Linked DNA regions of Homo sapiens. Changing the gene in region 1 together with any one later gene gives a genetic interaction. Each region holds a gene or a part of one and is shown in the gene's direction. Other genes may lie near its edges.

Region 1 (7,157 bases):
GAGGCTGCTTTAGCCCCTTCAGTGAGACCCTAACTTGACCATATTCCATTCCCCATGCACCTTCAGGGCACCAAATAAGAGTGGGGAACAGAATCAGATGAAAAAGTCTCTTAGAATGGGCAGGGAGTGGCATAACCCAGTAGTTAATGAGGGCCGACCAGCAGACAGCAGTCAATGTCATGGCAGAGCCTGGCAGAGCCTAGCAGAGCAGGCACTGGTTCTGAAAGATTTGGGGGGAACCTGGAAAGGGTTAACATGCTTCCCCGGGAAGGGTTTAGTTCCTCAGAAGAATCTGGGTCAGTGTATTTGGGAAGTTTTTAAAAAGTCAGACGCTCAGTAGAAGCATTTTAAGAAGCTTGCAAAGCTTATTGGGGCCATGGCAGAAAGGAGGGTAACTTCATAGGCTCATCACCTTTCACCAAGAGGATTTTCACCACACAGGAAAACCCTACGTTTTCCAAAAGCAACAGACAATTTTCTGTCATCACCACTTTTCCATCTGTTTAAAATAAGAAAGAAAATTCCTTCCCCTTTGGCCCAGGTTGCAGGTCAACAAAGGAGGCATTGTTCATCATTTCTTCAGAACATGACAGGGCACAGCTCACTCTGCAGTGTAAGAAAACATTTTTTAAAAAAAATCTCAGAGTAGCCTTAGGGGCAACAGTGAGTAAACCAAAGCCTTCGATGAGGGAAATGTTTGGTTGCAGACTGGAGGACTATCCTGGAAGGTGGAAATGAGGCTTAGGTTAATACGGTCAGAGCCATGATTCCTTAGTTAGACTCAGGAATTAAATCTGAGTTCCTGAGTTCCTGGTTGGGGGTTGGGAACACTGCATTAAAGGGTAGGCAGGTTTGAGTTGAACTCAGTTCCCAAGAGCGTGCGGTCAATGTCCAGAGGAGCTGGATGTAGACAGATGCCTCTGGGAGTCAGTCTGCACCTGCCTCCTAGGAACCTTCTTCACTGGCTTGAACTGCCTAACTGCCCTTTCTGCCTCCAAGCCCTGCAATCCACTCTCCCACTTTTGCCAGAGCCATCTTTCTAAAGGGAAACCCTGATGCCTCTTCTTTGCTCAAGAATGTTTCATGGCTCTCCACTGTCTAAAGATAAGGTCCAAAGTCCTTCAGCAAGATGTTTAAGGAGCTTGTGACATGGCCTCAAGCTGCCTCTTCCAGTCCCTCACATTCCCTAGGCTCCAGACCATGTTCCCTGAATAAAGTCTTCAAGTTCCAGGATCTTGGCCTTTAATACCATGGGTACCTGCATCCTCTCCAGCCCACGACTAAGCACATTCCCAATGCCCCAATCCTACCTATTTTTCAAGGTACACAGGCCAATCCCTCCAGGAAGTTTTCCAAGGTACCCCAACTTAAAAGTAACTTAATTCTCCTGAAACTCCATAGCATTTTACCTCTATCCAGACATACGTCTCTCTTGAACCTACGACTTCCCAGAGGAATTTACTGGGCCATCCGTAGATGTCAGCTGTACACGTTTATATGTATCTCTAGACTGTTAGCTTCCAGAGAGCAATAACGGTCTTACTCACTGCTGTAAACCCAGGTAGACCAGCAATACTGTTATCCATACAAGTATGGTTTCATATTTTGTTTCTGTCCTCCTGATCTCTCAAGCCACCACCTAACTCAGAAAAGAAAGGAAAAATAAAGGAATGTCCAGTCATCAATCAGAAAATCAGCGTCTGTCTGCCCCCGCAGTTTACTGTCAACTTCTAGCAGGCCGCCACTGTATCTCTCACCGTGGAAATCCCAGGGTTTAACACAGTGTCTGACACTGCGCGTGTGTTCCACAATGAAAGAGAGAGGGGGGCTTGCCCAAGGTCACCCAGAGTCAGGAACCACTGAATCTCATCCGGGACGAGATCTGGCGAAATCATTGACAACGTTATCTCAGTGGGGAGCTGGGAGGCCGGAAGGAATGAAGTGTCTGAGAACCGTGCGCCAGGCCTCCGGGACGCGGGAAGGGCTGAGGGGGCGGGAGGCCACATCAAACAAGACGCTGGGCTCCCGGGCTGCCCGGAGCCGCGAGCCGAGCTCCCAGGCGGCGGGAAGGGCGGAGGGGGGGTGGGGGCACGGGGGCCGGCGACCCGGGCAGGCGGGAGGGAGGCGGAGGAGGCGGCCGGCCGGCCCAGGCAGTGCGCGCCGCCCGCCCGGCTCGGCAAATCCCCCAGGGAGGCCGCCGCCAGAGCCCTGGCGCTCCCGGCCCGGCGCCCGCCACGTGGCACCCGGCGGCGGCGGCGGCGACTCCTCCCGGCGCGCGGCCCGGCCAGCAGGCAGCACGCAGCCGCCCGCGCCGCCCGCCTCCTCCCGGGCGCCCGCCGGCGGCCTCCCGGGCGTAGTGAGGGGGAGCGGCCCGGCCGCCCGGGACCCGGGGAAGGGGCGGGCGGCGCGAAGCCGCTTTAACCGCAGTCGCCGAGCGGAGGCAGGAGGCTGACCCGGCCGCTTCCTAAGTGCGGTCAGGCATCCCGTGACCGCGGCGGGCGCCCAGGGCCCCGCGGGGAGAGGGCGGGGGCGAGGAGCAAACTTGGAGGCCCCCACCTCGCCCCCGGGCTGTTGCGAATGCGGCTTTCGGCCGAGTGAAAACCCCAAGCCCGAAAGTGAGGGTGGGGAGGCGGGGGTTGGAAGAATTCCCCACTCTCCACCCCGGGTGTGCGCTCCCCGCCGGGAAGAGCTGACCTTGGCCTGGGGAGGCGGGGGTGGGGAGAGAGGGTAAGCGCCGGGGCTCGGCTCCCAGCCCGCCGCCCCCTCGGATTCCTGGCCCGGCGGGGCCGGAGGAGGGGGCCCCGGACACACACACACACACACCCCCCACACGCAGCGCGCGCCAATGAGCCCGGGCCAGGCGCAGGGGGCGGGGTTTTCCCAGGCTCGAGCACAGCAGCTGCTATTTACCTTCTTGGCTTCTCCCGGGGACCAGGAACCGGCCCCCGCTCTCCGCCGCCCGTCGCCGCCCCCCGCCTCCCTGCCCCCGGGGCGCGCGCACACACACTCACTCACACACGCACGCACACACACATCCTCCCGGCCCGGCCGCAGCCGCGGCGGCAATAAAACATCCTGGCACGTGCTCCGGCTCCAGGCGCGCCCACGCCGGCCGGCTGATGTCAAACTGCAGCTCGGCTGGTGTAGCTCTTAAAGGGCCCGCGGGCGCCGGGGGCCGAGGCCGCCCGCGGGGCGAGGAGGGAGAGGCTGCTTCCTTGCCCGCCACCTCAACGCGCCGCAGAACCTAAAGCCTACGGATGAAAAGGGAAAGGGTGGTGAAGGAGGGCGCGAGTCCCTGAGTCATTGCCCTCGGAGCCCCCCTTGTTCATTTTTTCATTTGAAATACCGTTTCCTTCCACCCAGTTGGAAATTATTCTGATTGTTTCCTGGGGAAGCCCGGGGTCTAAGGCCCCAAATCCAAACGAGGAATTTCTGAAAGACGGGGTGGGGGTGGGATTCAAGAACTACCTTGCTCCGAAAAACCTGCATTTGTGAGGTAGAAGGCAATTTTTCCTTTTTCTGCATGGAAACAGGAAAATTTTTTTGGCCCTTTTCCTTTACCATCTACTTTCACCCTCCTGAATGTAAAGTCTGAGCGGGAACTTTAGATGTGTCGGTAACTCACATTCTTACACCCGTCCCCCCCTCCCCCCGCCCCCTTTTAACCACTGCTGTTTTTTTCTTTATTGTTTATACCTTTAAAAAAAATATGTTTCAAATGAACTTACTACAGTCAAAGCAGCTCTGTTACATATGAGAGAGGGCATAAAGAGCAAAGACCCTGGCTCCAAAAGAAATAGACAAGATCAAGACCAAAGCGGAAAGAAAAAAAAAATCTCTAAACCAAAGCCCAGAGGGAGAGTAGCAAAGGGTTAAAATCCTTTTGATTGACGTTGTAGCCTCCGGTGCCCTGGGCTCAGGCGCGCGCCATTGGCCGCCAGACCTTGTGCCTGGCGGCCAATGGGGGGGCGCGGTCCACGAGCGGTGCCGCGTGTCTCCTCCTCCCATTGGCTGAAAGTTACTGTGGGAAAGAAAGTTTGGGAAGTTTCACACGAGCCGTTCGCGTGCAGTCCCAGATATATATAGAGGCCGCCAGGGCCTAGGGATCACACAGGATCCGGAGCTGGTGCTGATAACAGCGGAATCCCCCGTCTACCTCTCTCCTTGGTCCTGGAACAGCGCTACTGATCACCAAGTAGCCACAAAATATAATAAACCCTCAGCACTTGCTCAGTAGTTTTGTGAAAGTCTCAAGTAAAAGAGACACAAACAAAAAATTCTTTTTCGTGAAGAACTCCAAAAATAAAATTCTCTAGAGATAAAAAAAAAAAAAAAAGGAAAATGCCAGCTGATATAATGGAGAAAAATTCCTCGTCCCCGGTGGCTGCTACCCCAGCCAGTGTCAACACGACACCGGATAAACCAAAGACAGCATCTGAGCACAGAAAGGTAAGGGCGGTACCTGTATCTCTTTGCAGCCCCTCAAAATTAAGTAGGGGTTGGGGGGCTTCTTTCTGTCTTGAAACCCCGGGATGGCAGATTCCATGGGAACACAGAACTCTTTTTTTTATTTGCAGTCATCAAAGCCTATTATGGAGAAAAGACGAAGAGCAAGAATAAATGAAAGTCTGAGCCAGCTGAAAACACTGATTTTGGATGCTCTGAAGAAAGATGTAAGTGGGGAAATGCTGCTCGCTCTTTTAATTAAAAAACAAACACTTTCTCAGCTACTAAGAGTGAAACCCCCCGCCCTGCGGGGTCTGGCACTCGCTGGTACTGCGTTCTCCCAGGCGGGAGGGCCCGGCCTTATTCGCTGGGGTCCAGAGATAATGCTTGCGCTCCGTGGCCGGGAGGAGGGACCCCCAGCACTCTGAAGCAGCTGACACGGGGCTCACTTTCCTTTCTTGCCTACTCTATGCAGAGCTCGCGGCATTCCAAGCTGGAGAAGGCGGACATTCTGGAAATGACAGTGAAGCACCTCCGGAACCTGCAGCGGGCGCAGATGACGGGTGAGGGCGGCTCGCCGCGTCCCCCTGTGCGGGCGTCCCGCTCGCCTCGCGGTGATTTCTTCCAGACTTCCGCCCGTGGTTGTGAGAGGCATTCAGCTACATTTTACTGCCTTGGCTCACTCTTGCGTTCCCACGGTCTGGGGCTTATTTATAGCCACAACTCCAAGTTGTTACTGTTCCGGAAAGGGAGGGAAAGAGGTTGCAGCCGCGAGGGTGGCGGGCGCCGGGTAGGGGCGAAAGGACTTAGGACTGTGGCGGTTTGGAACTGCGTGGAGCCTGGGGGTCACTGGTTTAGCACTCCTTCCCGTTGCAGAAGGGGAAATGAGGCTTGGATGATGGATTGGGAGGCATTGTCCAAGGTCACATCGCGCGCGGGGGTGGGGGTGACAGATCTGGGGCTGAGATAGGTTTAAATGCAGCTACAGGGAATCGGGAAGGAGTGGCTCGGCTTTTGGCAGCAACGCTAGTGTGGAGAGGTGGCTGGTTTTTTCTAAACCCATCTCACCCTCCCTGCCGGAGGCAGTTTCACGGGCGCATGGTCAGGGAGGCGCGCCACAGGGACCTCCCAGGGCGGAGGCAGTGGCCACGGGGCCAGGGCCGTTCGGTGACCCGTCTGTCTCTTTCTGGCCCGCAGCTGCGCTGAGCACAGACCCAAGTGTGCTGGGGAAGTACCGAGCCGGCTTCAGCGAGTGCATGAACGAGGTGACCCGCTTCCTGTCCACGTGCGAGGGCGTTAATACCGAGGTGCGCACTCGGCTGCTCGGCCACCTGGCCAACTGCATGACCCAGATCAATGCCATGACCTACCCCGGGCAGCCGCACCCCGCCTTGCAGGCGCCGCCACCGCCCCCACCGGGACCCGGCGGCCCCCAGCACGCGCCGTTCGCGCCGCCGCCGCCACTCGTGCCCATCCCCGGGGGCGCGGCGCCCCCTCCCGGCGGCGCCCCCTGCAAGCTGGGCAGCCAGGCTGGAGAGGCGGCTAAGGTGTTTGGAGGCTTCCAGGTGGTACCGGCTCCCGATGGCCAGTTTGCTTTCCTCATTCCCAACGGGGCCTTCGCGCACAGCGGCCCTGTCATCCCCGTCTACACCAGCAACAGCGGCACCTCCGTGGGCCCCAACGCAGTGTCACCTTCCAGCGGCCCCTCGCTTACGGCGGACTCCATGTGGAGGCCGTGGCGGAACTGAGGGGGCTCAGGCCACCCCTCCTCCTAAACTCCCCAACCCACCTCTCTTCCCTCCGGACTCTAAACAGGAACTTGAATACTGGGAGAGAAGAGGACTTTTTTGATTAAGTGGTTACTTTGTGTTTTTTTAATTTCTAAGAAGTTACTTTTTGTAGAGAGAGCTGTATTAAGTGACTGACCATGCACTATATTTGTATATATTTTATATGTTCATATTGGATTGCGCCTTTGTATTATAAAAGCTCAGATGACATTTCGTTTTTTACACGAGATTTCTTTTTTATGTGATGCCAAAGATGTTTGAAAATGCTCTTAAAATATCTTCCTTTGGGGAAGTTTATTTGAGAAAATATAATAAAAGAAAAAAGTAAAGGCTTTTATGTCTTCGAACTGATTCTTCCAGAATATGTAAAAAGGCTTTTGGTGGAATTTGAATTACATGTAATTGGTAATTCAGGAATTGACTCTTTTGTTATTAAAAGAACATTTGTAAAAATCCATCAAACTTTTCACCAATCCTCCATGAACTAAAAAGACTAAATTCCATTTACTTTACAAGCAGCCATCTGGTAAGGCTTCCCTGATAAACTTGTGGTCAGTCTCTTAAAGGATTTCCAAAAAAAATGTTTTTAAGTTGCAGTCGGGTAAGTCTGCAGCCCTTGTTCTTCTAGCTCCTCCTGAGGAAGATTGAACAGGACTAAATTCACGAAGCTAATGGATCCAATCCTATTGCCCATTGCACGTTAAGGGTGGTTCCTGCAGCTCTCCTCTCAGGGTAGCTCACCAGCATCCAAAGCAAAAACACTTCCAACTGCTGCGCCTCCTTCAAGACTTGGGGTCTTCATTAATTAGCCAATCCTTTGGTTCAAATAAGACGTTCCCTAGCACCCAAAAGTTTCCTCTCCGCACCCTCTTAAAGCAAGCTGAAAAGGTCAACAGATTCCTTCTGCCAAGGGACAGTTAG
Region 2 (7,539 bases), on another chromosome or scaffold:
TTAGAGGATTTTTTTTTTACCCTTTTGTTTCTGAGGGTTAAGGGGGTGGGGTGGGGGTGGTAGTGTGGAGAGGAAAGGAGAAGAGAGGCTGGGGGAGAAAACACAGCTCTGTCAATGGACTGAATGCACCATTAAAACTGGCGTCACTACAAAGGTTAGAGCAGATCTAACTGTCAATACAGTGAGTAGAGTGGAGTCCGGTAAGGGGGAGCTTTGGTGAGAGATACTTTGATATTTTGGAATGTTAGAAGGGTGAATGTGAAAAATTGGAGGTTGGGGATCTAATTACCCAACCATAATTGGGGGCTAGGGAATAAGTTGCAGTCCTCTCAACTCACCGCAGATCAATTATGTTAAGAGAACATCTGTAAGTAGAACTTAATGAGGTCCATTAGAGCAACATGTACAGCCTCCTCTAACAGTACTTGTCAGCTTCTTGGATGAGCTGAAGGAAGCTGCTAACTAGGGACCTGGCGAGGTGTTTAAATACTGGAGGAGCAGCTCTGGCCCACTCAGGTTTTGTATGCAGTTCGGGAAGAAAGTGAGAAAGGGAGAGGCACACAAGAAAGACAGGAAGCCTGAAGCAGAGGTTTCTTTCATTTGTGTTGCTGAATTTCGAAGAGTGATGGTGGGAGTGTGTGTGGTGGGGGCAGTATCAACCTCATCCTTCCCTTGACCGAGACCTTTCACTGCTCCTGGACTTTCAGGGTGTGCTATCCTTTGCCTCCCCCCAACAACCTGTCTGCTGCCCTAAAAAAAAAATTAAAAAAAAAAAAGACGGCAACCTAACCGGAGCATCTCTGGGACGCCACAGAAATCGTAACTGAACACCCGCACACAAAAGTAATCTGTGAGGTGTGTTTTAAAGAAAGAAACAGCTGAAAACTTGAAGACGTGTTTAGAAATATACATATATACACACTATTTTCTTGTGGGAGATCTCCTTTGGGCAAAGGTAAGTAGTATATATCTAATCACCCCCTCAGCACCCTCCTCCACCCCATTTTGTCATTCCCCTCCCCTTTTCCCCTCATCAAGGTATCACAATATAAGACCCCTGAAGAAGACAGTCTGCCTTTTTTTTTCCTTTAATAAGTGTTGGGATGGGGGCTGGATGAAGTAAATTCTCTCATCAAACGTCTGATGATGAGTTGCAGAAAGAGGGCACAGGCAAAAGGTAATCGGACCAAAAAGATCTGGCTCTTTATAGCAATCCTTTCGCAAAGATTTCCAAAGGATCTGTAATTAAACTGGGTAGTTTACTCTCAGGAAATGAAGAAACTGCTTGCCTGGCTGGATCCAACCTTTAGCTTGGCTGAGTAAACAAAAGCACAAATTCTTCTTTCACTTTTTCCCTCGCGGGAGGGGTGAGACTTTGGGGTTGGGGGGAGCCAGGAAAACAGGGAGTTTGCTGAGGGTTAATGGTGTTTTTCGCAAAGTGTCAGCAGAAGATGATTAAATTCCACCTCTTGTTCACCAGATCACTTTGTGTGCACTTGTATATTTCATTGTCGGCAACCGCTGATGATCACATCTGTGCAGTACATTAAGTGGCAAGCCTCTTCATCTGCACGGGGTTTTTCTGATGATTTTTTCTGTGAATAATTCATATGATTATGAAGAGAAAAACTGCTATTTTCTATCTCTCTCCCTTCTGTAGCACAGATTAAAAAAAATCTTGCTGTAAATTGCGTGATTGGGGAGATAGCCTGCTTTCAAATAATTTAATTCATGACAAAACCTAATTACTGTCAGGTAATACCCTGTCAGCTTTAATGCATTTCATCAGTCATAATGAAAAGAAGAGCATTTTATGACCCATCTAATTATCATTACATTTTAGGGGAAAATGAATGGCATGGAGCTGAATGTTAACTATTCCATTTTATTCCTTTACACATGTGGTTTGGCATATTATTCGCTAAGTTCCTCTCTCTCTCTCTGTCTCTCTCTCTCCTCTGTCTCTCCTTCTCTCTCTCTCTCTCCTCCTTGCTTGGCAGTATTACTTGCTTATAAGTGTGGGGGAAATGGTAAAATTGAGAGGAAAAGGAAGATTGGGGAAAAAGGAAGAGGATGGGATGCACTTAGAGATCTGGGTGTTTGTCCCTTAAGAAAAAGGTGACAAAGTGGTTAATGTCTTTGCAGGTTGGTGTTGATATCAGGAATCTTACTGCCACAGTCCAAATAGAGTACTAATTACCGCGAATGATGTCACCGTAGGCAGAGGAATAATCCCATCATTTAATTAGTTGAATGATTTAAACAAAGATTTGCATAGATGCACTAATCAGTTGCCATGAATTACAGAGCAGCAGTTGCCAGCGAGGGGTAACAGATCATACAGTTGGAGGGAAAAAAAATCTCATCTCCTTGAACATAATTAATTTAATTGTCCTCATTAGCTGTACCATTTGTTTTGATTTTATTTCTCCCTTTCCCCACACATACTTCTCCCTCCCTCCCTCCCTCTTTTCTTCTTCTCAGTGCATTGGCTGAGACAGAGCGCACGAGACACACACACATGCATGCACACATATGCACACACACACACTCACACATACTGGGGTGTTTTCAGAGTGGCTGTAGCAGAGAGGTGGGGTAGAACAGTGGGGAGCTGTGCGGATGGGTGAAGTGCATGTATGCCTGCCTAGACGGGCCAGAAAAGCCAAACTTAAGAAATCTGCCTATGTACAGAACAAGTCAACTAAGGGGTTCTCATTAATCTACCGTCTGTGAATATCGTTATTTTTCAGGTTAGTTCTGAGTTTTGTTGCCTTTTAAAGGGAGAGGAAAGCAAACCACAGGCTATTTTATTATGAGCCTTCAAAAGGGAGGGGGTAAAAACTAGTTATCAATGTTGTGCCTTTATTCTTTATGAAGAAAAACAAAATTTAGCTTAAATACTCATGGGGGGGGTGCTTTGATTTTTTTTTTAAAACTAGAGCTAGATTAAAACTGATGGTGAAGAGAAGAAAAAAAGTTTTTTGTAGTTCAACAATTGAATATTTCTTGGCTCTTAAACATTTCAGTGAGTGTCTTTCAAATGTGGACCATTTTTAAGCTTGACCTCTGACAAAGCTTTGTAAAATCTGGTGAGGGTACTTTAAGAGCAGCCCAAACAGAGGGTGACTTTGAAGTTTGAAAACTTAGAAAAATAATAAGGTATTTTAAAGCTACCAGTGGCCTTTATAGATGCCAAGGAAAGTTAAGAGGAGAGGAGGTTAGAGAGAATGGGACCTATTAGAAAAAAAAAAAAAATCTGTCAAGGCCTTAAAACAAGCCTGTGAAGACAAAGCAGTAATGGTGCAGAAACTATGGTTCTTTGACCAAGTTAGTCCTGAAAACATGTTTCTCAGTGCTGTTGGCTGTTTTTCATTGGAGCGTGTGAGTTTTAAATAGTAAGGAATTCAAGTAATTGCAGGAAGTGTGTTTCGGGGTGGTGGTGGTGGGGGTCAGCATTAGTGAATGGAGAACAAGTTCACAGTTTGGGTCTTGGGCCATTAGAGGAAGGGAGGAAGGGAGGAAGGAGAGTGTGTGTGTGATCCCCTGAACCAGGCTTGTGTGGCGGACTTGCGGAGCAGCGACTTCAGAGAGTTCATGAATGGAAGTCACAGACAGACCAGCGACTGCAGCCACCTCCAGGCATTTCTTAAAGGGGAGGGTTGTGTGCTTTTTCCAGGGTATTCTGGTAGCAGTTTGATTCTCTTGCTTTTATTTTAATTTCCATAATTGGTAGCTTCAGAAATGGCTTTGGAAGGCAATTTGCTTTAAATGTAGCCACCTATTCCAAAATGCCCTGGTTATTTTAGGAACCCTACCCTTTTCCTCCGGAGCTCTCTCGCAGGAGTTCTTCTTTTGGACTGGTCCAGGAGGTAGGGTCCTTCCTCAGTCGACTCCTGCAGAGGTCACATTTTGTGTGCGGGTTTGTCCCCAGCGTTTGTGAGTAGCATATGCATGTGGTTGTGCTGACTGCACTCGCAGGCTTGTAAATTTTCACCCTGGGAAATTAGCAACAAAGCCCGATCTGTCTCGTGGCTGCTTTGCACTTTCCGAGGGCGGCTGTACTTGACTGAGCTGCAGAACAGGCACACGAGAGCGAGCGAGGGAGCCAGCGAGAGAGGGAGGGAGAGAAGGAAAGAAGAGGGGAGGGGTGGGGGCGAGAGGTAAATAGTCTTAAATCGGAAGGGAGCTGCTTCTCTGTGGTCTTGACAAGCGCTGCCTGGGCTCCGCCGGCTCACTAATAACTGAGTGACCTTTTCTTTGGCTGTATTATGTCTGGCTGGGAAGGGATTGCATTTTGCAGCTGAGAGCCGGAGCTTCCTTCAGCTCGGCTCCTCGCACGCTGCTGGGGTAAGTTGTCTTGAACCAGGACGGAGAGAGACAGCCTCGGACTGCAGTTGCCTAAAAGGAGGACACCTGTGGCTCAGATGCGGTCAACACCATTGCTTGGCGTATCCTTGAGGACCTCATTATTTTAAACTTAAAAAAAAATAGACATTCCCTCCCCCGTCTTTTTTTTTTTTTTCAAACAATGCTTCTTTTTGACCTTTCCCAAGGAGAAGCGCTACAAAGCAGCCACTGTGCTTACTGAACGGCCTCCCCCTGTATCGCTTAATTGAGAAGGTAAGTGCAGCAACTGTGTACACACGCGTCGGCTTATTTGTGGTGTGTGTGTCTGCGGGTGCGCGCGTGCGTGTGCGGATGTGGGTATTTTTTTCTTCCCCAACCTCTGCTAATGAGGCATAAACTGGAGCTGCAACCCAGCTCCGCACTGCAACTTTCACTCGGGCTGCAGCTCTACTGAGACGGTTTTGTTTAAATCATGTGAGGCTTCATTATTTTTATGATGAGACATGAAATAGATGCAGGCGGAAGATGTTGATGGAAGGAGGGAGAGCGGCTGCGGCGCGGAACGTCTCAAGTACGACTCGAGTGGATAATAGTCAAAGTTCACCATGAACTGCAGTATTTCCACACCCCTGACTCCCGGGGAGAGAGGGGCAGGGAGAGTTTGGAATTAGGAAGTGTTTGCTCCCAGCCCATAGGAAAAGAATTCAGTCCTGGGTGGGTTTCCGGACCCCTCCCCCTTACTTGCTGGAATTCATGAACCCCCACTTCTTAAAGAGTTGATATTACAATCTTTTGGTCCTTGTTGACGCTTCTGCCTCTCTCCACGCAGCCATAATAACAAAATGTTGTTCCTTTGCCGTGGAAAAGTGGCTGTGTTTGGGCATGGGGGCGGGGGGGGGGGGCAGGCGGGTAGGGGCAGAAGTGGCTAGAAGAGGGAAGGTCCCTGGACCAAGGTGCCTATATCCTAATAGATTGAGATTCAAACTGATGCAGCACATTTTTTACGGGGACTACTCAGATTGCTGTTATGAAATACAAGTCAGATTTATGATCTTTTTCATATTGAACATGATATGCTATGCTAACGCTGCATGTGACAGTTTAATCAAATCCATTTGTTACCAGGAAGCTAAAAGGGGCCGCTGGGATTTTAGGATTACGGGCAGAGTTAGGGAAGCATGTGGCTTTGTCATTCGCCATCATTTTGCACACTGCGAGGGGCTCCGTGTGTGCGCCCTGTCTTGTCTGGCCGTCCTCATCCCTTCCCCCACCCCCTGCCGCCACTCCGACCCGCTCCCAAAGTGGCTTCACAATAGTCGGTCCTCGGCGGTGTAGGCTGCGCACCAGGTCCACACTTAAGCGAAATCAAGGAGACCCCCTTCTACTTCTACCTTTGGGTTTGGTGCTCAATGCGAAGCTGCTGCAACTCAGACACGCCTAAGTCAACTCATGCAGAAAAAGGAGAAAAGTTTTGGTAAGGTTACAGTCTATCATAGATGCACTTTGCTGGCGCTCTGCACTCCTGGCCGCTCAAAAGCCTTTCTGCTTTTCCGCTGCTTTTGTGTCTTTCTGAAAGAACCGAAATATTATTGTTGTAACTGCTTTGAAAGACTGCTGCTTAAACCAATTAATCTTGCTAGATGCAACAAATACTGCTACATTCTTTGCAAACCATCCCTGTGTGGCTGCAAAGACACAACCACAAAAGGCTGGAGCATAAACTCCGCAAGGGATTCTTTGTTAGAGTGTATGTATGTTTCTTATTTTTTTTTTTTATTTTGCATGTGAGCTGCATCAAAATTGAACTCAGTCTTGCAAATCTCTTGTTGGCCTTTGCCAAGCACTAGCACTTTGCTGCCATGGTAACTGTAATTAAACTGATAAGAGTGGAAAAATGTCAGTATCTCTGAGCCTTGCAGCTGCATTGGAGAAAAAGGGAATCAAATTGGTTCCCAGCTCCATTGCTCAAAAAGGGGAGGGGGGTGAAGGATAGGGAAGGGGGCTGGGAGTTGAAGGGGCAGAACAGAGTTAAGCAGCTCCAGTGCCTGAGATCTGGGGACATCTATTTGCATTGTTGTCCCTTAGGGGGCTGCAGCCTGTAGGGATGCTCTGGGCCAGTGAACAGAGAGAAACAAGCTTTTAGGCCCAATCCAGTTTTCCAACCTGGGTTGGGGGCTGGGAAGAGGATGAAGATGGGCAGGAGGAGAGAAAATCTTTTGTCTGGTGCCTCTTGGCAATCGAATGGCCATGTTGGCCAAATTCTTTTAATCTGTGTCAATGCTCCCAGCTGCAGAACCTGCATTCCCATTTTAGCATCTTTCTGAAGCACCTCATCTCTTCCAACCCCCTTTATGTATTCCCTCTTCCTCTTCCCTCTCCCAAATTGTTCTCTGTGAATTTTCCGACGGACAAAATGTTTTCTATTCACTCTGTGTAGTTAGTCCAAAAATGTAAGACTGTGTCTAAGTGCTGCAAATCTTTCATTATTATTATTTTTTTTAAACCCCTGTGTGTTGTGGAGTTGTGGTTACTTTGTTGTGTTAACTACTGAAGCTGAGACTGTGCGGATGAATGGTACAGAACAAGGGAACATAATGGAGGCAATCAACCGTTAGGCCGCTTCACAATGCAATCCAGGCAATTAAAAGCTCACCAGAGTTTAAATGAAATGGTTCTACTTATTTCTGCACACCACACTGCACAGGCTATTATTTATGTCTTTTTTTTAATTATGATTTCCCTTAAACTGTCAAATAACTCAGAATGGCAGGGTCTCAGAGGCAATAAGAATTTCCCTCAGAACAATTTACATGCCAATCTAAAACTAGTTATGAGTTCTGATGTGCTATGAGCAACTTGTGAAATGTTTCTTAGCTACAAACACGTAACTCTACCCAGACATGTTCTTCTGGTGGAAGAGGGGAGACTGCTGACTGCTTTATGCCTTTTAAGTACACGGTAACATGGTGACTACAAAATAGTTCTTTTGCTACAATTGTTAACTTGCATGGAATTCAAGAGATTCCATTTTCAAGAGAATTGCCATGATGTTCTTCAAATAAGGTACCAGGATGGAGTGTGAAATATCAAACTCCTTTTATGCCCAAGGCCAAACAGAATGTAAGAGTTTCAAATATTAATTGGCCTCTGAGTGCTAAATTAAAATGTCAACACAACAAAAACATTTTG
Region 3 (7,348 bases), on another chromosome or scaffold:
GACAAATAAAAATGGTATACATTTATGATGTACAATGTGATGTGTTGATATATGTTTACACTGTGGAATGAGTAAATCAAGCTAATTTACATATCCATCACTTCACATGCTTATCATATTTTGTGATACCATCTGAATTTTTGTATTACATCTCTTTCTGCTATATCAGCCAAAAAACAGATTCTAAATAAATTGATCTTAAAACCAGATGATCAAATCATTATCTCAAAGGGTTAAACAATGAGTTTAACAAAATTAAGCTTATTGCTCTCAGAAGTTATACATGATCAATAAAACCTTATGCTGTTAATTGGTTTTTGTGCTGTTAATAAATAAAATTAATTAGTTTATTAATATTATTTTTAAGTTTATCATATATTTAATAATAAATATGAATATTTAAATTTATAAATGTATCTATTGATAAATACTTACAAATTTTAAAATAAATATTTTTATCATATCTTTGCTTATCTTTTGTATATCATAATTATATAATATACTAGTACAGTAGTACATGTACAAAGCTTATACATGTACTACTGTACTAGTATATTATGTAGTTATAATTGGGTATATACATATAAATATACATATACTCAGTATGTATGCCCTAAATTTTTATCTATGGGGTACAAAATTTTAAAAAATAGGTTGGAAACAGATGTCTCATAAAAGTAACAAATAATTACAAAGCCTTTGTAGTCCAACAGTATCTGGCAAAGCACTAGATGTGCAGTAAGTATTTAAACTACACTGACACTGTGTTAGTCCATTCTCATGCTGATATAAGAACATACCTGAGACTGGGTAATTTATAAAGGAAAAATGTTTAATTGACTCACAGTTCCTCAGGGCTAAGGAGGCCTCAGGAAACTTATAATCATGATGGAAGGGGAAGCAAACATGTCCTTCTTTACAAGGCAGCAGGAGAGAGAAGAATGAGAGCTGAGCAAAGGGGTAAGCTCCCTATAAAACCATCAGATCTCATGATAACTTACTCTTTTCATGAGAATAGCATTCAATTACCTCCTACCCGGGAATTATGGCAAGTACAATTCCAGTTGAGATTTGGGTGGGGACACAGCCAAACCATATCACTCACTAACCACCCCTGAATGCAAAGGTGGCCATTTATCTAAGTTTTGTGTGTACGTGTATTTCTCCCTTGCCATATGCATTTTGGTGAATAGTTCTGTGTGAGTATATCTGTGTAGGATACAATGACAGAAACAGTAGTACTTTGTGTCTGAGAGTGCAGTTTCTGAATTTAGACCACCTGAATCTCTATCTTAGCTCCATAATTTATTAGCTATGTGACCTTGAGTAGATTACCATCTTTTCCATGTCCTAGTTTTCTTATACACAAAATCGGGACAACAGTACCTACCTACCTCACAGGTTTGTGGTGAAGGTTAAATAAGTTAATATGAGCAAAGTCACTATACCTAGGTCTGACACATGGAAAATGCTCATTGTAGTTTGGCCACCAGAGCTATGGACAGACACACACACACACACACACACACACACACACACACACACACACACACGGGTGAGTATATCTGGATATGTTTATTTTTCTATGTCAATATATATCTGTTCCTCAATATGTATTTATACTGAATAATAATAATAATGATAGCCAACACTTACTGAACATGAGTTCTAGGCATTAGTTTAAGCACTTTACATATATTATCTTGTTCACCTTCAGAAAAAAACATGACATAACATTACATAACATGCTTTGATTATTCTCATTTTACAGATTAGAAAACTAAGGTCCAAAAAGGTTAAGTAACTTACAACTAAATTCACACAGCTAGCATATGACAGAGCCACAAAGCCGGACTTTTTAAGTCACTACTTATCACCTCCCCATTCATTTAATAATATTATTTAATATTACTCTTATAGTCTATAATATCATAATTTGTATGGTGCTTACTATTTCATCAAATATTTTCAAATACATTGGGTCTCATAGCGAGCCTGTGAAATGAGAAGTGCAATATTATTATTCTCATTTTTACAGGAAAGAAAATTGATAGAACTGAACCATGGGTGTCCTTTAGTGGAAGCGTTTCTATGTTACAAATATCTGGGGTACCTCTGTACATAGAGTCACATCATAAATGAACTGAGTACCTATAATGTGTCAAGCTCAGACATTAGTGCTGGGGATATAAGCTACAGACCTCCCCTGGAAGCATCATAGCCTAGGAAGAGAGACCAGTGTGGTAACCAAGAACCAAGAATCACGGTACACAATATGTAGTCTCTAAGGGAGACATGAAAGGAGTGCTTATGGAGCACAGAAGGAGGGGCCATCTGTGCCAGGGAGGTCTTAGAAAAGGCAAAGGGGTGGGGGAGGGGGAGGCTTTGATGGAAGAAAGAATGTGTGTGTGTGAATGTGAATCCATGTCTGTGTCTATGACAGTGTGGCTAGGCATCACTAAGTATGGATCTGAGTGTGTACCTGTTTATACAGGCTTACTTCTGTAAGCATTAATTTTTGTGTATGCTGGCTGCTGGTATAGAATGAGTAAGCCTGAACATAAAAGGGAATTTGTCTGGTATCACACACACCATAGCAGAATTGGACCTGCCCTGATAGGCACACCCTGTCATGACTCCCCAACACCAGGGGAACCAGAGATGCTGGTCCTTTCCCACTGTAGCAGCTGCCCACTCTAGAGCTATGGTGATTAGACCCACCAGTTTTTTTCAATCCATCAGTATGGATGTGTGGTGGTCTAATAGAGCCAGCCAGCTTGTATGATGAAGGGGGAGGAGGTACAGGTGTCTGTGGGTGTGCATCTGTGTGCACACTTCTGGTTGTGTGTGAATGCTTAGCATTGGCTGTTCCTAACTAGAGTGAGAAAACCTCCCTTCTCCCTTCATTGTCACCACCTTGGGGTGTTTATCCACTCACCCATTTCCATTGCCACCTGTATGGGACCGGCTTCCATCTTCACTTTAACGTTCTGGGGATATCTAAAATATACCTCTGTGCTGGGGTTAGGCAGAAGCAAGGCTGGGGAGTGTTGGTGCCCTTATTTGTTGGAGGCACTCCCTCCTTTCCCCGACCCCTGCCCCATTGTGGTCCAGGAATCTCTCAAAGGAGCAAAAATGTGGGCAAAGGCAAATAGTACTTGTGGAAGCCATGAAAAACCCGGAGGGTCACTCCCAGGGGTGGGCTGCTCAATGTGCCTCCCCTGGTGATAAAATCTGCTTTTAGGGCAAAATTAAGGAAGACAAGTGAGGACTCCTCTCTCCACAAATGTTCCCCTAGGAACTGGCGGGGTGGGAGTAAGGCTGTAATGCTCTTTTATTTCTTTAAGCTTGTATGATCAAAACAAGCTAAAATAATCACAAATAATATGTTATTGATATTAACTATGAGTATCTTCATAAAGTGGCAAAATAATTGAACTAGATTTTATTTTTTATTATAAGGTATACAAATTCAGGGCCATGGGATCATGTAAGGCAAAGGCATTATGTACTGGGACACACTGGTAATTTGTGTTTACATCTTGGCACAAGCACTGCCACGCAGTACAATATATTAGCATGTTAAGATGGGCAAGAATGAAGTGCAATAATCAACACATGTAGCATGTCATATTTCAGCTTGAATGAATGAGTGGGTGGAGAGAAAAACAAACATACAGAAAAGTAGAATTATCTCATGTCGTGGTCCGTGAATATGTGGATTCTCTTTCTAGTTCCACCAATGGCTTAATCTATTGAAAGGTTCTTACCATCTATTGATAAGTTAGTCTCATAGCAGATCATTTCTCAAAAATGTTAATATGCTTAATCAAACCTTACTGAAGTATCTTTTAAAATGTAAATGATCTCTAATAAATGTTGGCTGTTGCATGTCTAAATACTTTATTGCAGCATCTTATATAGTATATATTTCCATGTTCTGGACACAAATATTTTTCTAAATATTAAGGGAAAGTGGTGGCTTTGTAATATGCCAGGGGAATTCTTTGATAGTCAATATATTGTTTATTTGTACTTAAATATTTCATCAATAATCTGGAAAAGAGAAATAGCCTGACTACGGCTAGATACTGTTTAGAGGCTAAGATTTCTATCATGAACTGCTTTTCAATTGTTATATTTTATGGCACAGATTCAGTGGGAATCTGATCTGCTAAAATATTTGGGCTGTGAAAACTCCCACACTGTGACAGATGTCAAGTCCAATTAAGTGACTCATGTCCAGGTTTCTGTCCAATAGGATTTCCCATTAAATATCAATTTAGGGGAAAAAAATTCCATCCCCCTTCCTAAGCCTTTATCTCTTCCACCATCTCCAGGCTGAATCAATTGGTACCAGGAGAGCCCAGAAGCCACACACGCATCTCTGCCTCTTTGCTCTGGCTCTCCCACCCTCTTCCCGTCTTTCTCTGCTTCCTTGTCACTGTTACTCCAGGAGACGTTCACTTTTCACCAACCTTTCTCCAAGCATCTCCAAGCCACTGACTATATATATTTTGCTACAAGGTAAAGAGAAGAGGGGCTGGGGACGGGGGATATAGCCAAACCTTGAAAGACTTTGAAACTGGAAAATAGGTGTCTATTTATACAACATACAAGTAAGTGAGGGAAGAGGAAGAGGCAACCTTAGCTCCTAGTTACAGTATTGTGTTCCTGGGAACTGGGGAGATATCAGCTGAACAAAGCCTTATCTCAAAAAAAAAAAAAAAATCACTTCTGAGCAAGATCACATCTCTGTCCTGCACTTCCCAGTTTCTGCTCAGCCGTATTAAGGAAAAGAAAGGCATACGATAGGAGCGGAATCTTATCTTAACCATCTTTCTTATTGATTATTCCGCTATTAGAAAGTGGAGGAATCAGCCCTTTGATGTGATTGTGTTTATCTCTGCATCTCTTTTGTTATTTTTAGAGACCTAGAAGAGGAAAAAAGGCACGAGACTTTTCAACACATCGTTTAAAAAAATCATCAACGAATTTCTTGCAATGTTTGAGAACAATTAAAAGGAAAAAGCGTTTTTTAAAAAATCTATCAACTAAGTGAACAATCATTCATATCGTCTACATCCTGAGATATTATTGTCCCTCGCTGCGGACACCAGCGAGATGACAGCTGCTTTTTCATTTTTGAATGTAATAAATATTTGCTGCTTTTAATATTTTCCGGAATCTCCCCTCGCTATTCCTTGGAATTTTAACTCTAAAGATTGGAGAACAGATTATCAAAAAGGCTTTTGCAAGGTAAGACTCCTTTAAATAATTTTTTTCAGCTTGAAATAAGTTAGATTATTCATACTGTATCTATAGATGCAGTTCATTCCATAAAGAGATAAAACGCATACACGGCATACTATTTATGAATATTTTTAAAGATCTAGAGGAGAATTTAATGTGCTTTGAGGGCAACCCAGGAACTTTTTACCAGAACTACAACTATTTAGTGGCTTATTGTGATTTTCCATTACTCGTCTATTTATTTCTGCCCTTTCAAGCTGACTGTGTAGGTGCAAGTTGTTCTACTCATAAACGTACCCGAGAAAAGCCCGTAGGGAGTCACATGCAGCTCTCTGGGAGCATTTGTTTTTATTTTGCCGTAGAGGACCTGATTTCCTCGCAGGGAAATTAAAGCTGTTTTGGCCCAATTCGCTCCTCTGCAAGTGCGGTGCTGGGAACCGATCACCCATCCCCTTGCTTTTGTTTCTCTAGAAGCAAACGCTCCTATACGTCGCCGACGCGGATTTCTCCCGTGCCGAGCGTCGTGGAGGCTGCCCACGCCGGGGCCCCGAGTTCTCAGCCTGGTCCTCACTCCCGACGCCCAGGGGCGGTGCGTGCAGCCCCTGCAGGGGCCTTTCTCCTCCTGCCGGGCCCTTTCTCGAAGCCCGAATTACCCGGAAGCCCAGCGGTTCTGAGCGGCCCCCTCCCAGAAGGCGCACAGTCCGGGCCAGTGCTCCAGGCGCCCCAGAGAAGCCTGGCCAGGTGGCGTTTCCAAGAGGGCACAGTTAAGTTAGAGGAAGGCTAAGCACCGACATGCCCGGACTTGGCCAGGCCACCCGGGGACAGCTGCAGCCTGCCGAGCTCCGGTTCCGGGAGCGCCCGAACTTTGCCGGCAGAGATGCAGCTCCCGCCGGGACAACACGCGCTGCACCCGCTAGTCCCCGCCTGCCCCGCCCCGGGCCCTTCCCTTCTCTTCCCTTCCCTCTGCATCCTCTCCTCCCTCAGCGGCCCGGCTGCCGGCATTTTCCCGCAAGGTGGTCGCCAGACTGCCGGGCGCATTGTCTGATCCCACGTCGCCGTGTCCCTAGGTCCCCTATGTGTGTGGCTGTCTGCGTGACAGATGGTGCTCCGGGAGCCTGCGAGGGCATCGGAGTCAATTTTCTTTTTAAAGGCTCCCCCACGTTTGTTTAGTCATTTCTTTACGATTTCGGAGAAGCGCGAGGGGTCCAAGAAGCCTTCCCGCCCCCAGCCACTGGCTCTCCGCCTGCGCTCCAGGATGGGGATTCCTGACCGGCCGCACCCCAGAGCCAGGCGCCCCCGGCGCAGCCCCAGACCAGCGCCAGGCCCTCGGGCGCCGCGGCTGCCGGGTTGCTTCGCCGGAGGCCCTCGGGGCGAGAAGTGCACCCCGCGTCTCCCCGCCCCCGTGAAAACCCAGATGTATTCGTTGTTCGAAATCGCTCGTTTGTCCGGGAAGGGGACGAAGGGAGGGAGGAGGAATAGCGCGGTTGGCATTTGGCCGGAAGAGGCACAAAAACCCAGTCGCGACCCCACAGGCCTGCGGTTGTTCCCCAGGCCCAGGGCCACAGGCCCGCTGTGGCCGTCTGCAAGTCGAGGTGTCCAGTCTAGTATGCGGCCTGGGTCAACCGCGTCCCCGCCGGCTCCCGCGCCAGGGCGAGGCGCAGGGCTCGCGCCCTCGGGCCAGATCCTATCGGCGCCCTCCCGCGTCGCGCGCCGGCCTGCTGTGGGGAGGGGGCCCGGGCCGCGCGTCCGCTGGGAGGACCGGCGTGGTAGGCCTCGGCAGCCATCCTTCCAGCAAAATACCCTGATTCCTTTTACTGATTAATTTTCCGACCCCTCCTCAGCCTCCAAAATGATGCTGAGTCCGGACCAAGCAGCAGATTCGGACCATCCCAGCTCGGCGCACTCGGATCCGGAGTCCCTGGGCGGCACGGACACCAAGGTGCTCGGCAGCGTGTCGGACCTGGAGCCGGTGGAGGAGGCCGAGGGCGACGGCAAGGGCGGCAGCCGAGCCGCGCTCTACCCGCACCCGCAGCAGCTGAGCCGCGAGGAGAAGCGCCGCCGCCGGCGCGCCACGGCCAAGTACCGCTCGGCCCAC

Evidence for each region.
Region 2: of HES1 (region 1) and LMO3, changing one suppresses a phenotype caused by changing the other (phenotypic suppression), as found in Homo sapiens cells (one study listed by BioGRID).
Region 3: of HES1 (region 1) and NHLH2, changing one suppresses a phenotype caused by changing the other (phenotypic suppression), as found in Homo sapiens cells (one study listed by BioGRID).

The regions. Positions count from the first base shown.
Region 1 is NC_000003.12:194,132,040-194,139,196, forward strand, and holds HES1 (transcription factor HES-1), read left to right. Parts: upstream 1-4,108; 5' UTR 4,109-4,341; coding exon 4,342-4,449; intron 4,450-4,577; coding exon 4,578-4,673; intron 4,674-4,921; coding exon 4,922-5,009; intron 5,010-5,643; coding exon 5,644-6,194; 3' UTR 6,195-6,693; downstream 6,694-7,157. UniProt on the Homo sapiens protein: Transcriptional repressor of genes that require a bHLH protein for their transcription. May act as a negative regulator of myogenesis by inhibiting the functions of MYOD1 and ASH1.
Region 2 is NC_000012.12:16,603,150-16,610,688, reverse strand, and holds the start of LMO3 (LIM domain only protein 3), read left to right. Parts: upstream 1-4,526; 5' UTR 4,527-4,623; intron 4,624-4,718; exon of another isoform or gene 4,719-4,875; coding exon of another isoform or gene 4,876-4,921; intron 4,922-5,309; exon of another isoform or gene 5,310-5,799; coding exon of another isoform or gene 5,800-5,824; intron 5,825-7,539.
Region 3 is NC_000001.11:115,838,127-115,845,474, reverse strand, and holds the start of NHLH2 (helix-loop-helix protein 2), read left to right. Parts: upstream 1-4,348; 5' UTR 4,349-4,527; intron 4,528-4,771; exon of another isoform or gene 4,772-4,930; 5' UTR 4,931-5,259; intron 5,260-7,094; 5' UTR 7,095-7,102; coding exon 7,103-7,348. UniProt on the Homo sapiens protein: Transcription factor which binds the E box motif 5'-CA[TC][AG]TG-3'. Involved in regulating energy expenditure, body mass, voluntary physical activity, mating behavior and reproductive longevity, acting through the hypothalamic-pituitary-gonadal axis.